Linked DNA regions of Homo sapiens: region 2 is linked to region 1. Evidence: fine-mapped QTL for protein levels in blood plasma. Region 1 holds a variant in brackets. A gene starts in the other region. All regions are shown on their reverse strands. Region 1 overlaps TNFSF10 (TNF superfamily member 10). Region 2 holds the start of C19orf12 (chromosome 19 open reading frame 12).

The links. A credible set is the group of variants that fine-mapping cannot tell apart. PIP is the chance, under the fine-mapping model, that this variant and not a neighbour inherited with it causes the effect. Protein levels are from antibody-based Olink assays in UK Biobank. Linkage for the fine-mapping came from a reference panel and not from the study's own genotypes, which makes the PIPs less certain.
Region 2: it holds the start of C19orf12, and the variant in region 1 is the best candidate, but not a certain one, in a credible set for the plasma level of the C19orf12 protein (UK Biobank, PIP 0.83).

The regions. Positions count from the first base shown.
Region 1 is chr3:172,515,193-172,523,085 of GRCh38, reverse strand. All of the region lies in intron 1 of TNFSF10 (TNF superfamily member 10), which reads left to right. It also overlaps the pseudogene TBPL1P1. Among named protein-coding and RNA genes, the nearest start is that of TNFSF10, 4.3 kb to the left of the region's middle. The variant C/T (reference allele first, on the strand shown) is at 6,859.
Region 2 is chr19:29,708,878-29,717,896 of GRCh38, reverse strand. C19orf12 (chromosome 19 open reading frame 12) reads left to right here and starts at 2,636. Exons shown (of 3, transcript NM_031448.6): 1 at 2,636-2,772. RefSeq lists enhancers at 1,277-1,496, 2,042-2,141 and a silencer at 2,312-3,101.

The sequences.
Region 1 (7,893 bases):
AAGTTCAAGAAATTGTGTAAACTAAGTGCAGTTACACAACTGGCTTCACTAGTTACTAGCAGATGTGGGCAACAAAACTCCTGAGGGATTTTTTGTTTTTAAAAGTATGTGTATTTTATAATATCAGCCATTGCAACTCTTCATGAAAGCTTTCTGCTAAATGCTTTGTAGTTCTTTTGTTTTCCTTTTCCAAACTTTTATTTGTGCACATTCAATTGAAAAAGATAATTTTTACAGGTTCTTTGGTGCCCATTTTCAGCATACAAAAATGTAAAAGACTATTCACAGATAAAACACATTAGCTCAAAATGGAAAAAAATAACAATGACAACAATAAAACAACCTAAGGTAGTGCACACTGTGACAGCTCTGCTTATGGGGACATGAGAATTCCTGCGAAAATAAATAGAATGTCCTTTTGTAAAAGCAGCAATGACATGTCTTGTAAACTTCCTTTTTTATATTATAACAAGGTTTGGAATAAAATCCAAAGGGACTGGAGCTTACACTGTAGCCATGAATAAATAAAAGAGTCTATTTCCTCAATTACCGTTGGTTCAGTTTTCCTTTTGAGTCCAATGTGCAGCAGGTTTTAAAAGGTGCACAGTAAGAGATTCTAACCAATTAAGTGGTGAATGATAAAATTTCTTTCCTGCTTTCAAACACAAATGGGTAAATCTGTTCCACAGCAGTAGCAACAGCCTTTAAATAGGGCCTTGTTACTGTGATACTTCCTGTCGAAAAAATCTGTAATGTAGCTCTTAGAGTCTTTATCCAATAGCACACAGCAGGATGAAGTTCAGATTCATAACTCACATGAGGTCTATTGCTCTTTGTGAATTCTGGCAAACAGATTTCTTTATTTTTAAATTTTTTTATTTTACTTTAAGTTCTGGGATACGTGTACAGAACGTGCAGGTTTGTTACATAGGTATACATGTGCCATGGTGGTTTGCTGCACCCATCAACCCATCATCTAGGTTGTAAGCCCCACAGGCATTAGGATTTGTTCTAATGCTCTCCCTCCCCTAGCCTCCCACCCCCGACAGGCCCCAGTGTGTGTGTTGCCCTCCCTGTGTCCATGTGCTCTCACTGTTCAACTCCCACTTATGAGTGAGAACATGCAGTGTTTGGTTTTCTGTTCCTGTGTTAGTTTGCTGAGAATGATGGCTTCCAGCTTCATCCATGTCTCTGCAAAGGACATGAATTCATTCTTTTTAATGGCTGCATAGTATTCCATGGTGTATATGTGCCACATTTTCTTTATCCAGTCTATCACTGATGAGCATTTGGGTTGGTTCCAAGTCTTTGCTATTGTAAATGGTGCTGGAATAAACATATGTGTGCATGTGTCTTTATAGTAGAATGATTTATAATCCTTTGGGTATATACCCAGTAATGGGATTGCTGAGTCAAATGGTATTTCTGGTTCCTTGAGGAATTGCCACACTGTCTTCCACACTGGTTGAACTAATTTATACTCCCACCAACAGTGTAAAAGCATTCCTATTTCTCCACATCCTTCCAGCATCTGTTGTTTCCTGACTTTTTAATGACCACCATTCTAACTGGAGTGAGATGGTATCTCATTATGGTTTTGATTTGCATTTCTCTAATGACCAGTGATGATGAGCTTTTTTTCATGTTTGTTGGCCACATAAATGTCTTCTTTTGAGAAGTATCTGTTCATATCTTTTGCCCACTTTTTGATGTGGTTTTTTTCTTGTCAATTTGTTTTACAAGAAACAAATTCCTTGTAGATTCTGCATATTAGACCTTTGTCAGATGGGTAGATTGCAAAAATTTTCTCCCATTCTGTAGGTTCCCTGTTCACTCTGATGATAGTTTCTTCTGCTGTGCAGAAGCTCTTTAGTTTAATTAGATCCCATTTGTCAATTTTGACTTTTGTTGCAATTGCTTTTGGTGTTTTAGTCATGAAGTCTTTGCCCATGCCATCTTGAATGGTATGCCTAGGTTTTCTTCTGGGGTTTTTATGCTTTTAGGTTTTACGTTTAAGTCTTTAATCCATCTTGAGTTAATTTTTGTAGAAGCTGTAAGGAAGGGGCCCAGTTTCTGTTTTCTGCATATGGCTAGCCAGTTTTCCCAGCACCATTTATTAAATAGGGAATCCTTTCCCCATTGCTTGTTTTTGTCAGGTTTGTCAAAGATCAGGTGGTTGTAGATGTGTAGTGTTATTTCTGAGGCCTCTGTTCTGTTCCATTGGTCTATGTATCTGTTTCCATACCAGTAACATGCTGTTTTGGTAACTGTAGCCATCTTCCCTGCTTTGTTGTTGCAGGTTGGAGTTACAGTTCTTGACTCATGAATTCTTGAGGGTGAGGGTAGCTGTATCAGAGCTGTGTCTGCTTCTGCTCATTAGTATACCTCTGGGTCTAGCATGTGGTTCCCAAGTAGCCACTAATACTAATACTTGTGGTTCACTACATACTTATTGAGTGAATGAACAGCCTTCACAGATGTGGTAGGCACCACGAATATGCAGGCGACAAGGGTAGAGTCAGGCTCAACCCAAAGCCAGGCCCTAAGTCACTGAACACTCCCGTTTTGTATTCCAGATGTAGCTAGTCCTGGTGAACTTTCACATCTTTGAAATGTTTTGCTTTTAGTTATGTGGCATTCCTGTGTTGACAATAAGTGAGAATACAAAGGACTGGCATTCTGCCTATTCCTGGGGCACGGGCATGTCATGGGTAAAATCTGTAATAAAGAAGTTATCAGATAGACACAGCTGTTCATGATAAAACAATTGAAAAGCAAACTGCCAATCTCTGCCTGTGGATGGTCCATGTACAAATTGAGGTATCTTTGACAGACAAAACAAACAAACAGTGCTATTTTAATTTATGATTTTCTCGATGAAAACCCCTGGAACTATGACTGCAAAATTGCTGAAAATAAACCAACTCAGTTTTTGACTTCTAATATATATTTTAATTCATTGTATATTAAATAGTAGAGAATTATGAGCTGCAAGGAACGTCAGATCCTCCCCCCACCACCACAACCACTTTTTACAGACGAGGAGACAAGAAATAATGTACTCAAGTTCAGACAAGGCTTTGGAGGCTGGCCGTGGGGCGGCTAGCACCCAGGTCTGTAGGCTCTTCCCTCCACAGTGGGATGTCCACAGGGTTAACCTATCTACACCTTGTGATGTACACTGTGCATGCACAGCGCATCCTGCAGCACCAACTCTGCCAGCTGACTAGGAAATGAAAGGCTAAGGATCTCAGAAAAGTATAAATTGTGCAAAAGACATAGAGTAGTAACTATTTGCTAGGGAAATGTAGTTTGCATATCCTGTGGAATGTAAGTTTGGTTATCCCAATCAGTCGGAAATTTTTCTTTTGGAAATGGATGAGGCAGACTCTTGTTTTATTTGCAACTAATTATGAAAATTATGGCTACTATTAGATGACCAGTAAAGTCAGGTTTATTGTAGGACACATTTAGAAAAGATTTTCTTTTGTAAGAAAAAAATATTAATGAAACTGTAATCATACCTTTAGCTTTAAGTCTACACGAGAGACTGGAATACTGCTATGTTCACCAATTTGGAGCCAGAATTTCCTAACCTTTCTTAACTTTGCAGCATAAACAGAGTAAAGCTGTTACTCCACACACAAGTAGCTCCATCAATTTGCTTACATTACAAGTTGGACTAATTTTAAGATTGAATCAACCAGTTCTTTACTCAACTGACTCATGCAATTGTCTGTATATATAATCAAATTTCTTTTTCAATTCTACTATAAAAATGGAAATTTCATATAAGGCTTAAGATCTTCCCACTTGCATACATTTTTCCTAATTGCATATTGACATATGAACACATGTACATTAGGCATGCAGAAGAATTCATTGAGAGTGCTAGAAAGCTAGGAGAATTACAGATATTGAGCAATTACTGTGTACCAGCAACTTTGAAAAGTATTGCCTGGTTTCAATTCTCATAACAATTCTATTATGTAAGTATAATTACCCCATATTACAGATGAACAAACTAAAGCTCAGGCGAAGTTAAGAGATTTGTTCAAGATTACAAAACTAGTAAAAGGTAAAACCTGATTTTGAACCCAGGCATGAAGGAGGTACTCAATAAATTGAAGCACCTACTTTTTTTTACAATACATTTTTTCAATACAATACAATGCTATTTTTATAGTAGCGTTCTAATTACTGCTGAAAAGTCTCCTGAAGGTGTCACTTTCTTCATCAGAAATTTTCCAAAGGGAAAATAAGTTTGAATCTTCTGTGTAGACTTTGGAAAAGTATATTCAACATAAGTATTAATTTCTTAAAATTGAATACAGGCTCCACTTTGTCTGGTGAACATTTGCAGAAGATACACTCTGCAAGGATTATAGGGTGTAAGGGTTAAGGAAGGCTTCATAACATTGGATTGGACCTTCACAAATAGCCTGTAGACCAGCAAACATGAACAACAAATATGGGCTTAGCCCCTGAAATCTGTGTCCCTCTGAGAAAGTTTTATGATAAAGGAATGGCCTGTCACTGTGACATCATAGATGGGGAGGAAAAAGGAGAAGGGCTTCCTCTCCACGGATCTCCATAAATGATCCTTTATGCTATTTGCAGTTTGCAGAAAATGATTGCCAGAGACTAATGTCTGGGCAGCAGACAGGGTCATTGCTGCCATCTTGAAGTCTACCTTGCTGAGTCTACCCTGCTGACCTCAAGCCCCATCAAGGACTGGTTGACCCTGGCCTAGACAACCACCGTGTTTGTAACAGCACCAAGAGCAGTCACCATGGAAATCCACTTTTCAGAACCAAGGGCTTCTGGAGCTGAAGAACAGGCACCCAGTGCAAGAGCTTTCTTTTCAGAGGCACGCAAATGAAAATAATCCCCACACGCTACCTTCTGCCCCCAATGCCCAAGTGTGGTTAGTTAGAGAATATAGCCTCAGCCTATGATATGCTGCAGGAAACTCATATTTTGAAGTGGAAAGGATGGGAGGAGGCGGGGGAGACGTATCGTATTAATTATCATTCTTGGAATAACCACAGCACCTCACGTCAACCCGCCATGTGTCTAGTCACCAGCATTGGCCAAGTTCTATAGGAGAAACTACCAAAATTCATGATGCAAGAAACATGTGAGGGTGGAGAGAGTGACTGGGGCTTCCTCTCTGGATTTCTATTGTTCAGAAATCAATATTTATGCATAAAAAGGTCTAGAAAGAGAAACACCAAAATGACAATGTGATCTCTAGATGGTATGATTATGGGTACTTTTTTTCCTTTTTATTTTTCTATATTTTACAAATTTTCTACAGGGAATGTTATAAAAATATCCATGCTATCCATGTATAATTTTCATACAGATTTAAAGAACACAGCATTTTTATATAGTCTTATGAGAAAACAACCATACTCAAAATTATGCACACACACAGTCTGATCTCACCCCTGTAAACAAGAGATATCATCCAAAGGTTAAGTAGGAGGTGAGAATATAGCTGCTATTAGTGGTTGTTTTGTTTTGTTTTTGTGATTTACTTATTTAGTTTTTGGAGGGTTTTTTTTTTCTTTTAGAAAAGTGTTCTTTACTTTTCCATGCTTCCCTGCTTGCCTGTGTATCCTGAATGTATCCAGGCTTTATAAACTCCTGGGTAATAATGTAGCTACATTAACTTGTTAACCTCCCATCCACTTATACCCAGGACCTTACTCAATTTTCCAGGTTCCTTCCACCTCCTCCTGAAAGTATTTCTGGAAAATACTCAGAAGGGATCACAGGCTCTAGCCAGCAATTGGTGCTAACCTGGGCTAGTCCCTGTGGCACAAGCTCCACCACGACCATCCTTGTCAAACTCCACCTCAGTTGATAAGTTGTTGCCTGCTGCCATTACTGCCTGATCACAGGCAGCTTTCAACTCTGCACCTTGCCTCTCACAGCTGAAGCCTCCCATATTCAGCCATTTCCTGCTGAGATAGCTTACAGCTGATGTGAAGTGAAAAGGCATACCGCTCCCTCCTTTCTGTGTTATGCACACCTTCTTGCCCCAACAAGTTACAGAGACTTGTGAGCCTGCTTGTTCAGTGTAATCAAACCGAAGCTTGGCCAGAGCCAACTCATACTGAGTGAACTGGGACAGTGTCCAGGGAAAGTTTGCTCTTCCTGGAACCACCCTCGGGCCTTGTGGCTGATCCCAGTTTCTCGTCTCTTCCTTCTTGATCCTTTCCCACAGTTTGCTAGACATGCTCTCATATTTCTGAATCATATGTGACTGAGTGCCTTCCTTGGAAAGGTTTTGCATCTCCCAAGTCAATTCGAGGTGCAACTGGATGTTTACAGGTGGGGCAGGCAGGGGCAAGGAAATGTACCTAAGTCCATGGCCAGTCATATCTCAACTCAGGAGGCCCCAGCTTCACCTCCAACTACATATACTACGGGAATGTTTTTCTCTTGTAATTTAAAAGAGGAAGAAACAAAATAAACATTTGTTTAAAAGTAAATGAATGATCTATGTCAGGGTGTGTGGAAGAAATTTATTAACTCAAGTTTGCACCTTTGCATTTGAGGGACCTTGGCCAAATGTCCAAGGGTTACATGGCTGAGTACAGAACTGTGTGATTCTAGCTGGGACCTCTCATAAACAGTTAAGATATTTTGATTTAAAATGATATTGTCTTTCTATAGGAAGGAGTGAATCATCGTTCAATTTGATCCTCCCTTCAACCTTTGCAGTACCTTAGTTCAAATAACAGATTAAAATTGTCATTTTCTCATTTATTTCCCTAGGTAGTCAATTCAGCAGATTTTTTTTTTTTTTTTGAGATGGAGTCTCGCTCTGTTGCCCAGGCTAGAGTG[C/T]AATGGCACGATCTCAGCTCACTGCAAGCTCCGCCTCCCGGGTTCACACCATTATCCTGCCTCAGCCTCCCAAATAGCTGGGACTACAGGCGCCCGCCACCACGCCCAGCTAATTTTTTGTATTTTTTTAGTAGAGATGGGGTTTCACTGGGTTAGCCAGGATGGTCTCGATCTCCTGACTTTGTGATTCACCCGCCTCGGCCTCCCAGAGTGCTGGGATTATAGGCATGAGCCACCGCGCCTGGCCAATTCAGCAGATTTTTTCAGGGAAATAACGTCTCTTCCATCCCACTTGTTAAAACAAAACAAAACGGAAGAGAAGAAATGAGCAAAGCAAACAAACAAACAAACAAAACCCTTCTGGCTTTGTTTGGACCTTCTGTTTCCTGTTTTTCTCAATTAAACAATTATCAGCCTAAAGAGTTCTGGGTGGTTTGGGATGGGGTGTGTGTGGGTGTGTGTGTGTGTTTATAACATCAAGCAAGGATTTGTTGATGAGGGTGAGGAGCTCGTTGATAATGATCTGACTATTGCCATTGTTTACTTTCAATCAGAACAGGGAGAAAACCTTCAAAGAGTGTTTAAGGTCTCTACCAATAAATCCCTAGTTAGTGTAAACATTTAATGAGACAGCATTCAGATTTCTAGTGGCAACATGGTCCAGATTTTGCCAGCCAGAGGAGTAGAAATCAGATCAGTAACTAGAATCTATTTAGCTAGCCACAGCTAGAAACAGAACATGACCCCCTCCCAAATGACTTGGCTGTTTTTTATTTAGGATCCTAAAATGTAAACTGACTCCACTACCGACCTTGTATCTAGGTAGGTTTCCAGCTTCAAAATGGGATACATACCATGGCAGAACTGGAAGAGACCTCAGAATCACCATAGTGAACCGGCTCAAAACTATAAACAGACACAGGAGAATGGAAGCAACTTGTCAAGAAAAGCACAGCTGTTTAGTAAGGGAGGCAGGGAAGGACACTGTGACTCCAGATGCCTGAAGCACACCTGCATCCTTTCCACCATATCCAG
Region 2 (9,019 bases), not on the chromosome of region 1:
GAGATTGCGCCACTGCACTCCCACCTGGGCCACAGAGCGAGACTCCGTCTCAAAAAAAAAAAAAAAAAAAAAAAAAAAAAAGAAACAACAAAAGAAGCTATAGGGTTTTTGGGTGTGGCCCACATTGCGGATCATCCAGCCCTGGTCTAGGTGGGTGGCTTTAGCCTGAAGGAGCCATGGAAGTTTTAGGAGCTGGTGCACTCAGCTTTGGGAGAAAGTGAGGGCATAGAACGCTGGCCCCGTCTGAGTTTTGACTCTGGCTGGCCGTGTGAACACCACCTAGCACCCTAGGGCATTGTTGGGCCCATCAGCAAGAGAATGTTTTGTCAAGGTGGGGGTAGAACTGGATTTCCCACTACCTTGGGCCCATGAGGCTCATGGGACTTTGGAGAAGCCGCTCATTTTCACATTCTGTAATGTAAACAAGAATAATCTAGATTCATATATATTACCTCCTTTTATGTTGAGAACAACCCTATAGGATAAGTACTACTCTTGTTGCCATTTCCCAGATGAGGAAACTGAGGCACGGAGACGTGGAAGAACTTTCCCTAGGTCACTGTAAGCAGCATAAAGCATCGCTGTGTGCTGGGCCAGTGCCATTTCCGCGCCACCACCGAGACCCCACGGCACGCCTTGCTCACTGTGCAGGAGGCCGCAGTTGCCTTTAGGAGCATGAGGCACTGTGTGCTCCATCTCTGGGGTTCAGAGTGTGCGGTCATGTTATGCCTGCATTCGTATCAGAATGAGGCCCAGGAGGCTGATGGGTTGCAGATTTGCATGCAATGGCGCGATCTCGGCTCACTGCAACCTCCATCTGCCGGGTCCAAGCGGTTCTCCTGCCTCAACCTCCCGAGTAGCTGGGACTACAGGCTTGCACCAACCATGTCTGGCTCATTTTTCCATGTTTAGTGGAGATGGGGTTTCACCATGTTGCCCAGGCTGGTCTCAAAGTCCTGGCCTCAGGTGATCTGCCCGCCTCGGCCTCCCAAAGTGCTGGGATTACAGGTGTGAGCCACCGCGCTGGGCTGCATGAACCTCTTACATGCTTGCCTTCTCTGGAGGGCCTGGACTTTGAAGCTTCTTTCACTCCCAGCATCTTTCCCTACACAGGCCCTCTTCCCCACTATCTCTGGGGGAGGAGTCTGCAGGCCAGTTCTGCAATGTGCCGCCAGAGGGAGCTGCCCGCAGAGAAACGGGAGCGCCACACTCAGGCCCCAGGAAGGCAGCAAGCTGAGTTCCCCTGGCCTCAGTTCACTTTCCCTCTTGAAAGTCACCCAAACTCAAGCAAAAGCTCCGATTCAGGAATAAATGGGGTTGTTTTATCCCAGCCAAGGCCTGGGGAAGCTTGGTATTAAGAGCGTTTGTTCCATTCTTTTAAAAATGGAAAAGGGTCCGTCCTCTGGGTGCCCATGGCACCCTGGAAAGCAGGCAGAGTGCTGGTCACAGGCGGAGACTTTGAGATACCGAGACCGAGGCTGGAGTTTGGGCCCTGAAACTTTCTAACCAGGATGGCCTTGGGCAGAGCAGCCTGTGTTTAGAGCTTCCCATCTGTAATATAGCAGTGACAACCATGCCTGCTTTGCAGGGTTCCTGTTAGGATTAATTCTCTATAGAGCCCCCCAGAAGCCACTTTTGGATTTGAGATGGTTCAAGGCCAGACCTTGCATGACAAGAGTAGGGACAGCTTTCCACAGGCCTCAATAAAGTAGTATTCCCAGGCAGTTCTGCAACCCCAGCCTCATGCCCTTTGCACCTTCCTAAGAGGCTGCCTTGCCTCAGCTTTGGTCCCCATCCAAGACTCCTAAGAGCAAAGCCAGTTCTTTTCCTTTTTTTTCTTTCTTTAAGAGACGGTCTCACTCTGTCACCCAGGTTGAAGTGCAGTGGTGGGATCATAGTTCACTGCAGCCTCGAACTCCTGGGCTCAAGCAATCCTCCCGCTTCAGCCTCCCAAAATGCTGTAGGTCACAGGTATGACTCACCCACCCGGCCTAATTTTTATTATTATTTGTAGAGATGGGATGTCACTGTGTTGCCCACGCTCGAACTGCTGGGCTCAAGCAATCCTCCCTCCTCAGCCTCACTGGCAGCTGGGATTACGAGTCCCACCCAACCTGCTTCTCCTTTTGCAACCCCCAGACCCAGAGGCTCCAGAGCAGGCTCTGGAACAGAGGAAATCTGGCTCCGGCCCACACATTCACCAAATACTGACGCAGCACCCTTGACCTCCAGATGCCCCTGTGCTCTCTTCTGTGCCCAGGCTGCGGGGAGAGAGGGGTCCTCCAGGCCAAAGGGAGGGAGGTCTCCGGGAGGTCCCCGCGGTCCTGGAGGCAGGTGCGCGGGGCCCGGATGTGATCATGCGTGCGCGTGGGAGAAAGGCAGGGCTGGGCCTGCGGGAGCGCGGCCTTGCGGTTCCCAGGACTCTTCTCCGGGCGCCTCGTCTCCTTACGCCACCCGCAACCCAAGCCAGGGCCCCGGTGACAGCGGCGGGGTGGGCCAGGACCGGGGAGGGGGTGCCCAGCAGCGACCCCCGGCTCCCCCTAAGGCCGGGCGCAGCTCGGAGCCAGGAGCTGGCCCGGCGCGTGGCTTCCCGGAAGGCCCGGCGCAGCCGGAAGGTGGGACGGAGGGCGGGGCCAGCGCCGGGGCCGCCACCAAGGCCTGCGCGACCCTCCGCGGGGCTGGGGAGCTGGGCGGGGAGCCCGGGGCCTGCCAGGCCCGGGCTGCAGCCGCGTCTGATCGCCGAGCGCGCCGCGTAGACCTCCGCTCCCCCAGGTAAAGGAGCGCCCGGAGCCGGGGCGGGGCGCCTCCCAGGCCGCGCCCCGCGAGAGGAGGGGGCACCCCAAGAGCAGGCCTGGAGACCCGGGAGTGCCTTGGGGAGAGGGTCCCCGCCCTGCCGGGAGCCCGGCCCTCCCGGTGCCGGGGTGGACACTGTTAGTGTAGTCATTGTCCCTATGGAGAAACTGAGGCATGGAGAGGCTGAAGTCACACAAGTAAGCAGCAGAGCTGGGACTAGAGTCCCGGGCCCTGGCTCGCTGTCACCCAGGAGTGGCGTAGGCATGGGTGTGGTGGGTGGGGGTGGGGTGCGGGTGGTGGATGTGGTGGGAGTGGGTGAGGTTGGGTGGGGTGGGGATGTGGGTTTGGCGGGGGTGGGGTGCGGAATGTGATGGGTAGGGGTGGGGTAGAGTGGGGGTGGCTGGTGGGGCAGGGGCGGGGCTGGGGGTGGGGTGCTAGGTATTATAAATGTGAAGCGGATCCTGACAGGACACCTGTGGGGCAGCGGAGCTGGGCTGAGCCATATGGGAAGAAAATCTGGGCGCTAGTTTAGATTTGGTCAGGAAGGGTCGTTAATGCTTTAGGAGGTGAGATTAGTTTTGGGGATGGCAGGTAGTTTGTTGAGCTTTTGTTTAGACAGTCTTGCTCTGTTGTCCAGGCTGGAGTGCAATGGCGCGATCTCGGCTCACTGCAACCTCCACCTCCCTCGTTCAAGCAATTCCCCTGCCTCAGCCTCCCTAGTAGCTGGGATTACAGGCGACACCACCAAGCCTGGCTAATTTTTTTGTATTTTTAGTAGAGACGGAGTTTCACCATATCGGCCAGGCTAATCTCAAACTCCTGACCTTGCGATCCACCTGCCTCAGCCTTCTGCAATGCTGGGATTACAGACGTGAGCCACCCCGACCAATTTTTGTATTTTTTAGTAGAGACGGGGTTTCACCATCTTGGAATAGCACCTGTAGTTCCAGCTACTCGGGAGGCCGAGGCGGAAGAATTGCTTGAGGCCAGTTCCCGACCAGCCTAGGCAACACAGGGAGACTGCGTTTCTGGAAAAAACAACAACAACACCAGCAACAACAAAAAGCAGGAAGGAAGGGGAGAGGGAAAGAGAAAGAGAGAGAGAGAGAACGAAAGAGAAAGAGAAAAGGAAGGAAGGAAGGAAGGAAAGAAAGAAAAAAAGAAAGAGGGATACTTTGAGAAGCTTTGAAGTGATCTGTTTATTGATCAAGTAGATAGGTAAGGTGCATGCTGCCAGGAGGAGCTGGGGTAGGGAGGGCAGGGCCCTGCTGTATGGGGGTGGGCAGGGGACGGCCCCTGCTCAGCCCTGGCCTCCATTGCTACACAGAATGGCAGGTCCAATGTGATCTGGTCTTCTGATTTTTCAGGAGAAATCAGGAATCTGAGGTGCATGCAAAATCTCCTGATTTTTAAATATTGGCAACTAATTTGTTTTAAAAAAACAACAACTATGAGCTAATCCAAAACTGTTTGCTGGTGGGATCCACCTACTGCCTTTGCGCTGGGGTATGGAGAGGTGGGAGGTCAATGTTGACAAGAGCCAGATCTAATTTTTTGTTAAAGAAAAGGGTACTTGGAGGTCAGATAGCTCTCTTCATAGCTATCTGAAGCCTTCCTCTCCCTTATCTCTTACAATCTGGTCCAAACTCAGAAAGCTAGGCCGCTCTCGGTGAGATGGGCTTGTCTCCGTCTCTCTGTACCTGTCAGAGCAGCCTGGGCGCCTGCAAGAAACCGGGGCTTCCAGTTGGCATTTGCCTTCCCTGTGGCTGGCAGATGGGCTTCCTGTGATCAAGGCCTGGTATGTGGATAAATCTGAGTGTGAAATAGGTGTGATACAGTGGGGGAGGGGGAGCCACACTCCCACCCCCTAAGGTCTGTCCCCATCCTCCCTCCTCACCCACTTCCCTGTCATTTACAGACAAAGGCAGCCTTGCGGTGGGAGAAGGAGCAGGGTGGGCTTCCCTCTCAATCTGGTGAGCCTGGAGAATTCAGGAAGCTGAGCTTTTTAGCAAGGGCTCAGGAGATGGAGTTACTAACCTTTCTTCCCCAACAAGAGCCTGTTAATGCTCTAACTTCTGAAATGATTACTACAAAGAAATTGAACCTTGGATGGAGTCAGCCACAACATCTCTACCCGTGGTGCTGGACTATTAAAACACAGTGACTTCCTCTGCCTGCCCTCACACACGCAGTGATAGCTGCTGGCCCTCCCATTCTGCAGAACCCTGGGCTTGTGTCTCAGTGAAACCTGCCTCATTGTCTGAGATATCACTGAAGTTCTGGGTCTCATGGCCAAGGAAATCAAGGACGCAGACACTCCAGAGGGTAGGTTAGAGCAGAAGTTTAATAAGCAAAAGAAAGAAAGCTCTCTGGATCAGAGAGGGGTCCCAGAAAGATGGGTTGCCATTTTACAGTGAAATGCAAGGGTTTTTATAGAAAAGCTGGTGGGAGGGGTGCTTCATTTACATAAGGTGCGAATTTCTGAGTCCCCCGCCCCACTGTTTCTAGTGCACATGTGGGCTTCTTAGCCTGAGTTACTACTCCATGTTGCTTATTTCTTCCTACTGTGCATGTGTGAAAAAGGTTGGGTGGTGGGGGGGAAGAACACTCCAAGGTAGACATGCCTGGTCCAGGGTAGCTCTTCTTATCAGTGCCATGCAAGCCTCTGTGTCTGAGTATTTCTTTTTTCTTTTTTTTTTGAGACGGAGTCCCACTCTGCTGCCAGGCTGGAGTGCAGTGGTGTGATCTCAGCTCACTGCAACCTCCACCTCCCGGGTTCAAGTGGTTCTCCTGCCTCAGCCTCCCAAGTAGCTGGGATTACAGGCGAGCACCATGACACCTGGCTAATTTTTGTATTTTTTTAGTAGAGATGGGTTTTCACCATGTTGGCCAGGATAGTCTCGATCTCTTGACCTCGTGATCTGCCCACCTCGGCTTCCCAAAGTGCTGGGATTACAAGCGTGAGCCACCGTGGCCGGCCGTGTCTTGAGTATTTCTAAGAAGGGAGAGGACTGTGCTTACTGGGGCCCACCATATGTCTGTATGTCACACAGGGGACCCGCTTTCTGTGTTAGAGCTTGCCTTCCTTATCTGTGTTTCCTGAAAGGGCAACGACTTCTTAGGCTGCTTTTTGTTAGAAGGGAATTCTGCCAAGGACCCTTGCCCTAACTATTTGCCTAATTGATTTCTCTCTCTCCTCTCACATTGATGCTGGCCTGGCTGGAGCAGGTAGAGCTGGAAGTAGCATTTTTGCAAGGACATCTCTTTAGCCTCTGTAGATTTTCACCTCAAGTCATTCGGAGCAGGTCGGAAGCTAGGTTTTTTTTGGGGGGGGAAGCCAGTAGAGCTAAAGTGGTTATGTATCTGTTTCCTGCCTTCCTTCTTTCCACTTCTACATGCATTTTCTTGCTGTGCAGAAACTGTTTTGAGAGTGCAGACCCAAAACTGCAGAAAACCTGTTTTGGGAGTGGTGTCTGGGTGCTGGCCTGGAAGCCAGCCTTGCAGACCAAGCATGGCAGGGCTCAGGGTCTTCACGCCCGGGGAAAGGGAGGTTCCTTGCAGCCTCCAAAGGGGCCCTCCTGAGACCTGGGCAGTGCCTCTCTTTTTCCAATATAATTGACAGATGAAAAGCTGGATATAAACCAGAACTAAGCTCAAAGGTGATTAGATATTTTACACCAGGATTTTGAGCTTTTTGTAAGATTTTACTGTAAAATTATTTCCTTTGGTTACTTTAATATGTACTTCAAATATATCTCATTTTGTGCTGGACGTAGTGGCTCACGCCCATAATCCCAGCACTTTGAGAGGCCAAGGCAGGCAGATCACCTGAGGCCAGGAGTTCAAGACCAGCCTGGCCAACATGGTGAAACCCCATCTCTACTAAAAATACAAAAATTAGCCAGGTGTGGTGGTGCATGTCTGTAGTCCCAGCTATTCGGGAGGTTGAGGCAGGAGAATCGCTTGAACGTGGGAGGCGGAGGCTGCAGTGAGCCGAGATCGCGCCGCTACACTCCAGCCTAGGTGACGGAGCAGACTCTGTCTCAAAAAAAAAAAAAAAAAAAAAACCTCTCTGTATATCTCTATCTAGCTATCTATGTCATTTTGTTTGTGTGATAGCTTTTCAGGACCATGGTGACTGGATAAATCAGGTTCTGCGCTCCGTCTCCCCATTTCCAGGTGGCTTCTGCCTGTTCAGTCCTGACACTGTTATAATGCCATTTTATCGTTTAGACATTTGTATGTAAACAAATCTTGACCACTGGAATAGTGGAAGGGGGTTCTCTTCTGGGGAGAAGGAGGAGGCATTCAACCTGTCAGCAAGCAAAGGAGCTGGGCAGGGCCTGGAAAGCAGGAGACCAGGTTTTGGGAGACCCAGGGCACAGGGTAGCCAGAGCAGGGACCCCCAGGCCTGAGTGCTCCTCCAGTCCCTTATGTGAGCAGGGCTCACAAGGCCTGCCCTCCCACTGCCTCTCATACTCCATGGGGACAAAAAGACATATCTAGGGGTGCTTGTTTGCAATTTCTGAATTTGAAGACTGAGTAACGAATGTCAGAGTCCTGCGTTATGCCCTCTTGGGGTCTTGCTGCCCAAAGTGAGATCAGAGGAGCACTTTGGGGGCTTGTTGGAAATGCAGAATCTTACCCTCCCATACTGGCTGTATCTGACAAGGTTTTCAGTGATTCCCGTGCACTTGTGGAGAATCACAGGTCTAATGTGTACCAACGGGGAAAAAGAAGGGAAATTTACAGGGGCAGGAGCGCAGGATGCTCTCCTGGGACTGCAGAGAAGTTCTGAGGACCTGGCTTTGCGGTCCTCTCATGGATTCATGGGTTTGTTCTCTGGGCTCAAAATTATATCCCAGGATTGGGAGAGCAATTTTACAGTAGGGACTTCTGCTTCTGGATCATCCTTGGGTCAGAAAAGCACACATGTCTGGGTACGGTGGCCCACACCTGTAATCCCAGTACTCTGGGAGGCTGAGGCAGGAAGATTGCTTGAGCTCAGGAAGTCAAGACCAGGCTGGGCAACATTGCGAGACCCTGTCTCTATGAAAACAAAAAATTAGCTGAGCGTAGTGTTGCATGCCTTTAGCCCCAGCTACTCAGGAGACTGAGGTGGGGGGATCACTGTAGCCCAGGAGTTCAAGGCTGCAGTCAGCCATGATCGCACCACTGCACACCAGCTTGGGCAACAAGAGACACTGTCTCTTAAAAACAAACGAACAAACAAAACAAAAAAACCTCATAAAACATATAACCCAAAGATATTAAGGTCAAATGTAGTGGCTCACGCCTGTAATCCTAACACTTTGAGAGGCTAAGGCAGGAGGATCTCTTGAGCCCAGGAGTTCAAGACCAGCCTGGGCAACATAGTAGTCATCTCTACTAAAAATAAAAATAAAATTAGCTGGGCGTGGTGATTGCATACCTGTAGTCCCATCTACTCAAGAGGCTGAGGTGGGAGGATCGCTTGAGCCCAGGAGGTCAAGGCTGCAGTGAGTTGTGATCATGCCACTGCACTCCAGCCTGGGCAACAAAGCAAGACCCCATCTCAAAAAAAAAAAAAAAAAAGATAATAAGCAATAGAATCTATCCATAACTTCCTCAGTTGAATTGCTGTAGCACCTGTTTCAATATTTCCACCTAGAATGAAATGGGAAGTGCTGGTGAGAAAGGGAAGTACTGCTGGAGCCTTGGGCTCAGCCAGAGCTCTGAGGAGACCCCCCACCTCGTGGCCCCTTTGATTTTCTCAGCCTTTGGGCTCTCCAGAGCCCGTCTCTCCCTGCCCTGGCTCCAGCATGCCACACATTTTCCCTACCCTGGAGGATTGTGCTAAAGGTCATTGTGCTAAAGGTCTACTCGCCCGTCCGTCTGTCTATTCATATATATTGCAAAGCCTGGGAATGATTTCATGTATTTTTTCTCCAGTTGCTTTGTCTCCCTGCTTTATCTTTTCCCTGCTTTTAGTGTCCCATGGGTACAACTGTGTTGACTTTTAAGAACAGTTGCTTAAGGCAGCCCAGTGTGTGTGTTAGTAACAGTGTTCGTTCAGAGCCATCCTGGGTCGGGAGCCTGCAGGCTTCCAGACTTACGCCAGGCACTTCCTGCCCATCCTGCTGGCACTGTCTGAGAGTCCAGCCTGTAGGGACTGTCTCCGTCTTAGAAGGGAGGTATCTGACCCTCTGCTCAGGGCCCACTGCAGGTCAGTGCCCGTGTGGTCACA